Linked DNA regions of Homo sapiens: region 1 is linked to region 2. Evidence: fine-mapped expression QTL. A gene starts in region 2. The other region holds a variant in brackets. All regions are shown on one strand. Distances are from middle to middle.

Evidence for each region. PIP is the estimated chance that this variant, and not a neighbour inherited with it, causes the effect.
Region 1: its variant is the best candidate, but not a certain one, in a credible set for the expression of KCNMB1 in whole blood (TOPMed, PIP 0.50).

What each region holds. Positions count from the first base shown.
Region 1 is chr5:170,364,965-170,370,335 of GRCh38, forward strand. It overlaps a transcript of KCNIP1 not described here. Among named protein-coding and RNA genes, the nearest start is that of KCNMB1, 22 kb to the right of the region's middle. The variant C/G (reference allele first, on the strand shown) is at 2,871.
Region 2 is chr5:170,386,355-170,391,725 of GRCh38, forward strand. KCNMB1 (potassium calcium-activated channel subfamily M regulatory beta subunit 1) reads right to left here and starts at 3,013. Exons shown (of 4, transcript NM_004137.4): 1 at 2,905-3,013. KCNIP1-OT1 (KCNIP1 overlapping transcript 1) reads left to right here and starts at 3,139. Exons shown (of 3, transcript NR_109899.1): 1 at 3,139-3,249. It also overlaps a transcript of KCNIP1 not described here. RefSeq lists enhancers at 1,128-1,628, 1,629-2,129, 4,054-4,554, 4,555-5,055, 5,308-5,371.

The DNA of each region.
Region 1 (5,371 bases), 21 kb before region 2:
GCTGTGCATTACTCTAGAGCTTGTTCATTCTCCATAGCTGAAACTCTATACGCTTTGGCCAACATCTCCGTTATTCATTTGTTTATGATCCAGCTCATCCACTAAGAGTCGAGCTCTGTGAGGGCAGGGAATTTTGCCTGGCCTTGACTACTTCCCCAGCACCTGGTGCAGGGCCTACCACATGGTAGGCCCTCATTGGGAGTTGAGAGGTTGAGCTGGCAGATGAGGAACCTGAGGCCTGGGGAAGGCCACCCAGCAAGCCAGACGCAGAGCTGGCCTTGAATCTGGGCTTCCTCCTCTTTCCATTCCCTACAGGCTCGGCACTGCATGCCCTTTAAAGGTTCCAGTTCTGTATCCACCATTTCCACGTCCGTCTGTCCATCCACACTTCCTCCTTAGCAAGGCCGCCCATGTTCCTGCATCCAGGACATGAGGGGTTAATTAAGATAGTCATCTGGCTTCTCAGGCTACCATCCTAAGAACAGCCCTCCTCAGTTCTGGAGCTGGCGGGCCATTTGGTTCATCTTTGATTTGTTCTTGCCATGGAGAGAGGGGAACCTGCCGCTGGGAAAGGATGGCGATGGTTTCCAGTGTGCTCTGCTCCATTCAGCCAAGGGGCTCCTCTGGGAGGGCATGAAGTGAGCAGTCACCAGCGAAGGCATCTGGGGGCTGCAGACGCAGCTGGCTTCCATGGCTGTGTTCCCCTCCAGCCCTTGAGGATCCAGGACTTTCTGGAAACATGATTTTGGAGTTCACTGGATGCTGAATCCATTACCACCAAATTGTGTGACCTTGGGAAGTCCAAGGGAGTCACTCCTTCGAGCCTAGCCTCCTTTTCTGTAAAATGTGTGCAATAATGCCAATACCACAGGTTTATTAAAGTAACGCACTTAAAAGTGTTTAGTGTAGGGCTTGTGTCAAATTAAGGATTCAACAAATGATGGGTGGTTTTGCTTTTATTTGGCTTTGCTGTTTATCAGGGCTGAGCTTAAATCTCCCTCATTGCATCCTAGGCAAACCAGGGACCTCCCATGTCTTGGGAAACGGCTGAGTGACTGAAATCACCCACGTGGGCCAGAAAAGAGTGAGAGATGTTTTCAACATACTCTTTGCCTTTCCTTTCCCTACCCGGGATGCGAGTATCAGTGACAAAGAGTTTTATTCTAGGGAGATGAGACAGGAGAGCTCACACTGTATTCATTGAGCAAGCTCTTCATGTCCAGAACCTTTAAAATCTCCTGTACACTCCTGCCCCACTCCCAGCCCACACTCTCCTACGGATGAAAAAATAAGAAGGGGCAGTAAAACCTTGTCTTTGTATAGAGTCCACCGGGGGCTCAACAGAGGAGGTGGAGGAGGCCTCAGACCTGGATGTCGTGGCAGTCACTGCACCCTGGGTCAGAGCCCCCTGAGGACACCACCCTGGAAGGGAGAAGCTGGCTGGAACCACAAAGCCCCATGGACAAGCAAGCTCTGGCACTACCTTTGAGCATCTGCTGTGCCTGCTGGCCTGTCTCACAGGGCACATGAGGTAAAAAGACATCAGGCACAGGCTCCCCCATGTTCATTATATCTGGAAATTTCAGTCTGGCCAAGGGAGCTTCTGAGAGCCTGAAGGTGGCCAGTATGTGACTGGAAGTCAAGGCCACATGGCACAGTGACCAGCGTGAGACTCCTCCAAATGTCCTCAGTGTAAGGGTGGGGAAACTGAGGCCAGAGCAAGGAACACCCTTGAGTAAGCTACCCTCAAAACGGAGCCTCCTCTGGCTGGTAGCTGGGGGCACAGGGATGGAGGGTAGCCTGGCCCCTCCTGGAAGTGGTGGCCACCCAGCAGATGGCTCTTCATTGCCACACAGCCGATGACTCATAGACTAAGCCCAAGCAAGACCCCTCGCCTCCTCCCTTCATCTCTGCACTCTCCCCTTCATGGCCTCACCTCTGGGGGAGACTCCCAAGTCTCTCTCTCTTGCCTTGGCTCTTTTCTTAAGCTCCAGGCCTGCAGGTGACTCCTTGGCTGGACTGTGAACTTGTTGGAAGGGCAGGGGCTACATTTTAGTTATTTAAGAACGTGCAGTCTGGCACGGTGGCTCACGCCTGTAATCCCAACACTTTGGGAGGCTGAGGCAGGTGGATCCCTTGAGGTCAGGAGCTCGAGACCATTCTGACCACAGCGAAACCCTGTCTCTACTAAAAATACAAAATTAGCTGGGCATGGTGGCACATGCCTGTAATCCCAGCTACTTGGGAGGCTGAGGCAGGAGAATCGCTTGAACCAGAATGTGGAGGTTGCAGTGAGCCACAATCACACCACTGCACTCCGGCCTGGGCAACAAGAGCAAAACTCCGTCTCAAAAAAAAAGAAGAAAGAAGGAAAGAAGGAAAGAAAAAGAAAGAAAGAAAGAAAGAAAGAAAGAAAGAAAGAAAGAAAGAAAGAAAGAAAGAAAGAAAGAAAGAAAGGAAAGAAAGAAAGAAAGGAAAGAAAGGAAAGAAAGAAAGAAAGAAAGAATGTGCAGCACCCAGCACAAGACCTGGCATAGAGTAGGGGCCTAACAAATGGATGGATTGATGGAGGATGGGAGGAAGGACCACTAGACCCTTCCAGTTGAATGTCTTTCTATAGCCCCTACTCAATCCTTGTAAAACCAAAGGAGACCTCTCTCTCCTGATTTTACTCTTTCTCTTTACATGTCCCAGTCTCGAGCCTTGTTCTTTCCATCTGTCACTCCCTTTCCACTCTCAGAACCGTTCCTGAAATCTGAACCTTTCTAACCTCTCACCCGCTTTGCTGCAGCAGCCTGCAGACTGCGTTTCTTCCCATTTCTTCCCTTTCTGACTCCTCCACACCATTCCAAAGAGATGGCCCATCTAAC[C/G]CATTGACCCAGAAGCCCTACTTCTAGAAATCTATTCTAAGCAAATCATCACAGCTGTGCATACGGACTTTTATTTAGAGGTATTCATTATGGTATTATTGCATTATTTATAACAGTGAAAAACTGGAGGCAATCTAAGTGTCAATGGAAAAAATTGTGTATTAAATAAATTTTGGTTCATCTGTCTGATGGAACAATATTAAACTGTTGAAAAATTATTTTAGGAACTAATTAATAACCTAGAGAAATGCTATTGATATCGTATCAAGTAGGAAGCCAGGAGAAAAAAAACTGTATGATGAATGCAGTTCCAGTCTGTGGGAATAGATGTGTATGGAAAAGTAAAATAGAGAAGAAATACACTGAAACATTAGTTTAGGTTTTAGCTTGGATTAAAGGTGAGTTTTTAAAGTTTTTGTTTGTTTGTTTGTTTGTTTGTTTGTTTTATTGAGACAGAGTCTCACTCTGTCACCAGGCTGGAGTGCAGTGGCGCAATCTCAGCTCACTGCAACCTCTGCTTCCTGGGTTCAAGTGATTCTTGTGCCTCAGCCTCCCAAGAAGCTGGGACTACAGGTGCCGGCCACCACAGCCAGCTAATTTTTGTATTTTTAGTAGAGACAGGGTTTCACAATGTTTTCCAGGATGGTCTCCATCTCCTGACCTTGTGATCCGCCCGCCTCAGCCTCCCAAAGTGCTGGCATTACTGTTGTGAGCCACCGTGCCCGGCCTAAAGTTCTTCTTGATGCTTCTCTGCATTTTCTGAATTGTCTTCAATAAGCATCCATATTTAATCAGAAACCACAAACATATCATTCACTAAATACACATCTTCAATCATACAGTTCTCAGTATGGGAACGCATGAAAGTTCTGCTTTCACTGGCATATCACTGGCTGTTCATGCCATGTGGCAATACACCCCGAACTACCAGATTTGGCACTCCCAGCCCTAACCCCACAGTCTCAGACCTCAGCCCACTCCCTAGTCCTGTGTCCCCGTGACCAAACCCACACACGCATTCTCCTCCAGCCAAACTGGTCCCCACATGTTTCCAAACCAGCCTTCTGTTCTGTGCTCCTCAGCCTAACTCTCAAATGGTTCAGAAACACAAATTCGCATGTGCACAGAGAGAGACAGAGACAGAGAGAAAATCCAAATATGATAAAATACTGATCATCATTGGTGAACCTAGATGAAGGGGAGGCATGCTTACAATTTGCATTGTAGTTGGATATTTTCAAAATAAAAAGCTGGGGAAATAAAGGAGCAGTGTAGTATAGTATTTAAGGGCATAAATTCTGCATGAAATTACCTTATTTCAAGTTCCAGTCCCACTGCCTATTAGTTGGGAAGTAGTAACATTAGGCAAGGTACTTACTTTCTAAGACTCAGATTCTTCATCAGTAAAATGGGGATAATGAAAATCCTGGTGTATTTGTTTCCTACAGTTGCCCAGAGAATGGAATGTATGTGTGTAAAGGGCTTGGCGAAGAGTGCCACACACCCTTGATCATGAACTGTTAGTATCAGTGCTAAATATAGAAATCAATTTATTAACCGTGACTCTATTCATGATATTCTCTACCTCCATAAGCTGCTCATCCCTGGACAACTAAGTAAAGTGCTACAGCTTTGGAAACTTTTCTTGCACGGTTCTTTTTCTGCCACTAGCCCTGGAAGCTGCTCCAATGCGGTGCCTGCCCCGCTGGTATCCATACCTCCAGGCCCTGGCACAGAGCCTGGCAAGGGGGAAGAAGCCATTAAATGCACTGAACCCCAAATGAGAATCTCAAAGGGTTCAAGCTGTACTTTAAAGAAAACTCTTCTCATCAGGACCAAGTTTGCACTTTTGCTGATGCAGCCACTCTATTCCCATGGGCTTCCTTGAGATAAGGCATCACCTTGATAAATTAGCTGTAGATATAGGCGTCTTGCAGTTGGCATGGGAAAGCAATTTAATTTCCAATTAAGCCTGATTTCTGGGCCAGGAGGTTGGCCTACCTCGCACTGGAAGGATTATTCTGGCCAGGCCTATTATTATCACGGGTCATGATTCTCCCATGAAGTGGACTCTCAAGGAAGCTGGTCCTTCAACCATTGGAATGGTTCAGTGAGGCAGAAATACGGCCTCTGTGGGTAGGACCCTTTTTCCCCAGGAATTAAGTTTATACAAGTAGAGTCAGGGAAGTTCAAAGCAAAGATAGGCAGTCTGTTTGTGGCCAAAATTGTTAAGTCAGGGTACCCCTAGAAATGAAGCAAGAGGGGAGAGAGAGAGGGAGGTGAGGCAGTCATCAATCAGGCCCACAAGCAAGAGAGGCGGGAAGTTGCTAGTAAGAAAAAGACGGCAGGAGGTAGTTCTCTGAGCCCAAATCGAAAAGAATCTGAATTATCGGTTGAAGGAGACACACTTACTTGAAGAGAGAACAGACATTTGTGAAGCATCTTTTATGCACCGTGCTGAGTACTTCACATTCATGATTGATGATACAATGCACCCTGTA
Region 2 (5,371 bases):
TCATCCCCCACGGCCACTGCAGGGAGTGCAGCCTGCAGACACCTTGGTGATTTTGGACTTCTGGTGAAATTTCTGTCGTTTGAGGCCGTCAGGTTTATGATCATTTGCTACAACAGTCATAGGTCCCATGCGGTGAGCGAGCAGTACATGTGCATCATCCATGCACCTCCTTCCACGGCACTTATCTCACAGGGATACTTGGAGTATTTCTGCCCAGAAACAGTTCTGTGGCAGGGCTAGCTGGGCCGGGCACAGGCAGGGAAAGGAGAGGAGGGCCCCAGAAGGCAGCTGCAGGTTGTCAGGAGAGGCAGGAGGTTTACCATATTCCGGTGTTTTTTTTTTTTGTAAGGAACATTCCCCTACTTCAAGCAAAGAAAGAAGAAAGAAGGCATCATGGTGGCCTCAGCGACTGCTTTCTTATTTCAGGGCTTGAAGCCACCTGGGACAAAGCAGAATGGGCACATTCTGCTGGTGGTTGCTTTCCTTCTCTCCTCTTTCTTTAGGCAGCAACTCCTTGTTTTTCCCCTGGACATTGACTCCACCCCAATGCAAGCAAAGATTCCACCCTCCCCTGCTAGGCTCCTGATCGCTCCCCCAGGAGTGTGAGTCTTGACAAAGACTTCAAGAAACAGCCCCTCAATCTATGCCGCCTGGAGCCACAGAGATGCCCAGCCATGGTCCCCGCGTGATTTCCCATGGTTCCGCAAGCTGTCCTAGAGCCTCTGGTAAATTTATTTGCTGTTGTTTTTATTTGTTTAAAGTAACCAGAGTCCATTTCTACCAAAAATACCAGGAAGCTATCAATGTAATCCTCCATTTTAGGGGAAATTTTAGGGGAATTTAGGGGAAATTTTAGCCAGATATCAGGGGGACTTTATTCTCCTTGCCAGGTCCCTAAAGTAATAAACATATTATGGTTTTTGTTTGTTTAATTAGCCAGTGTCCGGGTGACAGGCCTTAGTCCAAAGAGATTTTCTGCAAAGTGCTCTATTTTCTGCTCAGGCGTCTCTTAACTACTAGACTGTTTCAAATATTCAGAGATTCTTGACTCCCTCCCCTTAGCCAGGCTGCCCTCATACCCGGGCATCTCCGCTAAAGGGAAGAGACCAGGGTCAGGCACCACGGATACCCATCACACCTTCCCAGTGAGCTGGTCCACCTCCCCTATCGATCGGCAGAGGTGACATCCAATGACAACTTTTTCTCCTTTATTTGGCACCAGGAGGTGAGTTTCTCCTGCATTCTAATGGAGACATTATAAAAGCACAAGCAAGCAGAAATTGCCCCCGACAAAGAGAGATGTTTTATTCAACTCTTTTTATTCAATCCTTTTCCTCCTGTTCTGTGATCTTGTGGGAATGGGAGAGCCCATGCCTTTTTCTACCTGGCGTCAGTTGAACAAGACTCTCCATGTATTCACAGGTAAAGCAACAGAATCACCTGGAGGTAAGCTAAAAGCCCCAACAGCCTGCTTCCCCAGGACCTGCAAGGGTCACTGGCACTTGGCCCCACCCCAGATACTGTGAGACATAAATCATTTGAAGCCAATGGGAAATCCCATCTTGGAAGCCTAGGGCTGAGTGCCCACAACAAAGCCATTTCTCTCCTGGGGGAACTGGATCGCACCTGTGGGGGCTTCCTGTGGCTCCTTCCTGGCTAATCAGCCCCCCCCAGCGCCCAGGGCCATGGCCTCCTCTGCTATTTGGCTTCTAGTGCCCTCTCAGGCCCCTGGGCACTCCTGAGGCTGGTGAAGGCAGGAACCTGGTTTTACCAGTTTTAGGAGCTCAGAAGGAAAGGAAAGGAGAGGCTTCCCTGTCACAGAGAAGTCTGGAAACTTGGCTTATTCAGGTCTGACCCGTCTCTAATGGTCTGATGAGATTGTTGCCTGCACTGAGTGAGTTTATAGAGTCATGATAAATCCTCCTAAGACCATGCGTGGGGTTCAGTGTAGATATGACTTCAGCAAGAAGTTAGTATTCAGCATCCAAAGGGAGAACCTTTGGCGGGAGGAAGGATGGGAACTGTCAATATCCCCCAAGGGACAGAAAGAAAAGGAAGAAGTGGGTTTCAGCTATCATAGGAGGGATTTCAGTTAGACTGTAAGAAGAACTTCCCAGTTTTGAGCATTTCTAAATATCTCTGAAGTTCCAGGATATATCTTCCCATTTAGAAAGGTCACTTGAGATCTGGGATAGATTCAGAGAAGATGGAGAAGGACAAAGGAAGGCAGGACTTTGGAGTGTCCTGGGTGACCTGATAGCTGGGTCGACATCCTTTTCCTTAGAAGGACAAGGAATAGAGTACATTGTTGAACAGTTTGGTGGGGTGTGGACAGGGCGATTCTGAGGTCCTCAGACATGGAATCAAATCCTGGCTCTGCCACTTACACTTAGCAACCACATGACTGTGAAACGAGAACCATGGTACCTGCCTCAGAGAGTTCAGCTAAAGATCAAATGCCATATTGAGTATCAGACATGTATCATAGCACCTAGCCCCAAATCAGCCCCCAGTAAATATTAGCTATTACTACTAACGAAGGAAACCCTGAAAGTTTGGAGCAGAAGTCTGGACCCCTCTTGATGAATCTATTTTTGTCCCACCTCTCTACCGGTGACAAGTGCCAGCATTGGTGTTAATCTCCAGGCTGCAGCCTTCTGGCCACTCTGAGAACTGGGACCTAGAGGGCCAGGGCGCTTACTACCAGAGTAACCTGGCCACTGTGCCACCCTCCCCACTGGCCACCAGACCACGGGCCCTCCATCCAGAAGGACAGCCCCGAGAGGAAGGGAGTCCTCCTGCCTGCCTCCCTCCCTGCCCCGTGGCAGGCTGCTTTCCCCTGTCTCCCTCCAGCCCGGTCTTCAGAGAAATCACTTCCCAAGTGCTTTCAGGCCCGGTACTCACAGTCTTCCCGGCGTCCTGTGGGTCTTGAGCAGCAGACAGTTTCTTTCTGCCTGGACCCCCGCCCCCACCCCAAAAGAGGCCACAGAGCTTCAGCAGGAAGTTTGGCCTCCCCGCCCGTCTCCAGGGAAGCAGCTTTTGGTCCCCATCTGGGGCAAGCCTCCATGCCCAAACATGGTCAAGTCTGAGCACACAGCCTGGAGACACAGACTCGGAGAGCAGGTACCCAGCCCTGAGGAAGGCAGCTGTTACCCAAGCCCTGCACCTCCATCTTCCCAGAGTCTCGTGGGAAACAGATTTCAAACAACAACAGACAGCAAGACTGAGAAACTACGAAAGATCAGCCTGGTATATTTGGAAATATTTCTTCTTCTCTCTGTCTCTGTGGGCTGGCAAAGATGCCAGAAATAGGAAATGATTCTCCTTTTGTTGGCATGAGGAAGGGTGGAGTTGGGCTGGAGGGGTTGGGCTTGTCACTAGTCCCTGGCATATCCACGCTGGAGCAGCTACAGCTCCCTGCCTTTGGCACTTACGTGCTGTGTGACCCTGAGCAAGTTATGGCACCTCTCTGGGCCTCAGTTTCCTTTTTTGTTTTTGGTTTTACTCCCAAACTTATCGTTAAATGACCTCAGTTTTCTCACTTGTGTTACTGGCATTTTTAAAACCTACTTTGCTTTAGGGTAGTGATGGGAGTTAGAGACGGTGGGGATTTATGGCAAGGGGAGAGAACTGACTTTTTAAGGACCAACTGAGCTGAAGCTGGGAGTAGTGAGAGCTCCACAACTGCTTCCAACCAGGTCCAGGGACAGTCTGCTCACCAGGGGCCCTCCCAGAGACCGCGAAAGTACAGAGATTTCTTCCTAGCAATAAGACAAGTGAATGTCAGCATTTGCAGGCAAAAAACATGCTTTTAGATCTCTGCTTCTTCATCTGTAAAGTGGAAGTAAGGATTAAAAATCAGCAACAAAGGGCAGGCACAGTGGCCCACGCCCATAATCCCAGCACTTTGGGATGCCAAGGTAGATGGATTGCTCAAGCCCAGGAGTTTGAGACCATCCTGGGCAACATGGCGAAACCCCATCTCTACTAAAAATACAAAAATTAGTCGGGCATAGTGGTGCATGCCTGTGGTCCCAGCTACTTGGGAGGCTGAGGCAGGAGAATCGCTTGAACCTGGGAGGCGGAGGTTGCAGTGAGTCAAGATTGTGCCACTGCACTCTAGCCTGAACAGAGCGAGACCCCGTCTCAAAAAAAAAAAACAAATATATATATATATATATATATTTTCAACAAAACAACAAAAACAATCCCAGATATTGGGGCTTTCCTAAGTATCAGGCGTGGTGGTAGAAGGCAGCTTATCTCCACCCTTCACTTGACCCAAGAATCAAAGAACCTGAAACTGAGACTTGGAGGCTTGAAGTCACTGGTGCAACCCTAGGGGCCAGAACTAGATTCGAAGCTGGCCCTTCCAGATGGCACAGCTTGGTCTGTCTCTGATGACCCTGGGGCTGCTCTGAGACATTAAAAATCACCTCGATCATACAGTAAGCTGCCACCTGAGGCTCTGGAGGTCACCCTGAGTTTCCCCAGCCCCCAGGGAGGTGGGTGCAGCCTGGCCTTCCCTGCTGAGCGAGCTCACCACCTTCCTCCCTCCTGCCTCCAGCAGGCGCGAAATGAAGGCAGCCACTCAGGCCTCCCTGACACACTCTCAGGCGGTGAGTGCCCTTCTCCACCCCTTTCCTAATTGAATCTTATTAACAGGAGACTACAGTGTCTGTTTAATGGGCACCATAGCACCAGAGGGTCTAAGACCAGCTTCAGACCTTGCAGGCAGATTGACAGAGGGATGTAGGATCTGGAATTCAATCTCAGAAGAGCAATTTTCCAAGGATGATCCTCTGTCCACTCAGAAGCAGGAAAAGTCCTCCTGGGGCTAATCCAGAAATGCCAGGCCCCCCTCCTGCTTCCCTGGGGGAGAGATACACAGTGCAACAGGCTGCCATTTATGAGTATAACCGAAGGGCTCCTTGCTCGTGATACTCTGAATAAGTTATTAAGGGCTACATATTATTTGGAAATCATAAACAAACTTTAGCATTCTTCCCAAGGGAAGGTGGGAACAAACAGGGAAGGGGGGCCGTGGGGTCTTCTGCTCCCCCTAAATGAGCCACAACCAAAAGGCATTGACAAGCCCTGTCCTCGAGGGTTTGTGGGTGAAAACCCAGGTCCTTTGCTGGCTGCGGGGTTGTGTGTGACAGATGGCTACAGGTGGAGGGCAAGAAAATAACAATGCTGCAACAATAAATATTGACGGTTTGCATTAGTACGGGGTGTCAGAGATCACAAAATATCTTCTCTGACTCTTCCAACAGCTTCTTAAGGTACTAGCACAATAGGCTCACAATAGACCACTGAGGTGGAGATTTTTCTACCCATTTGATAGAGGGAGTAACTGAGCCTCAGAGAG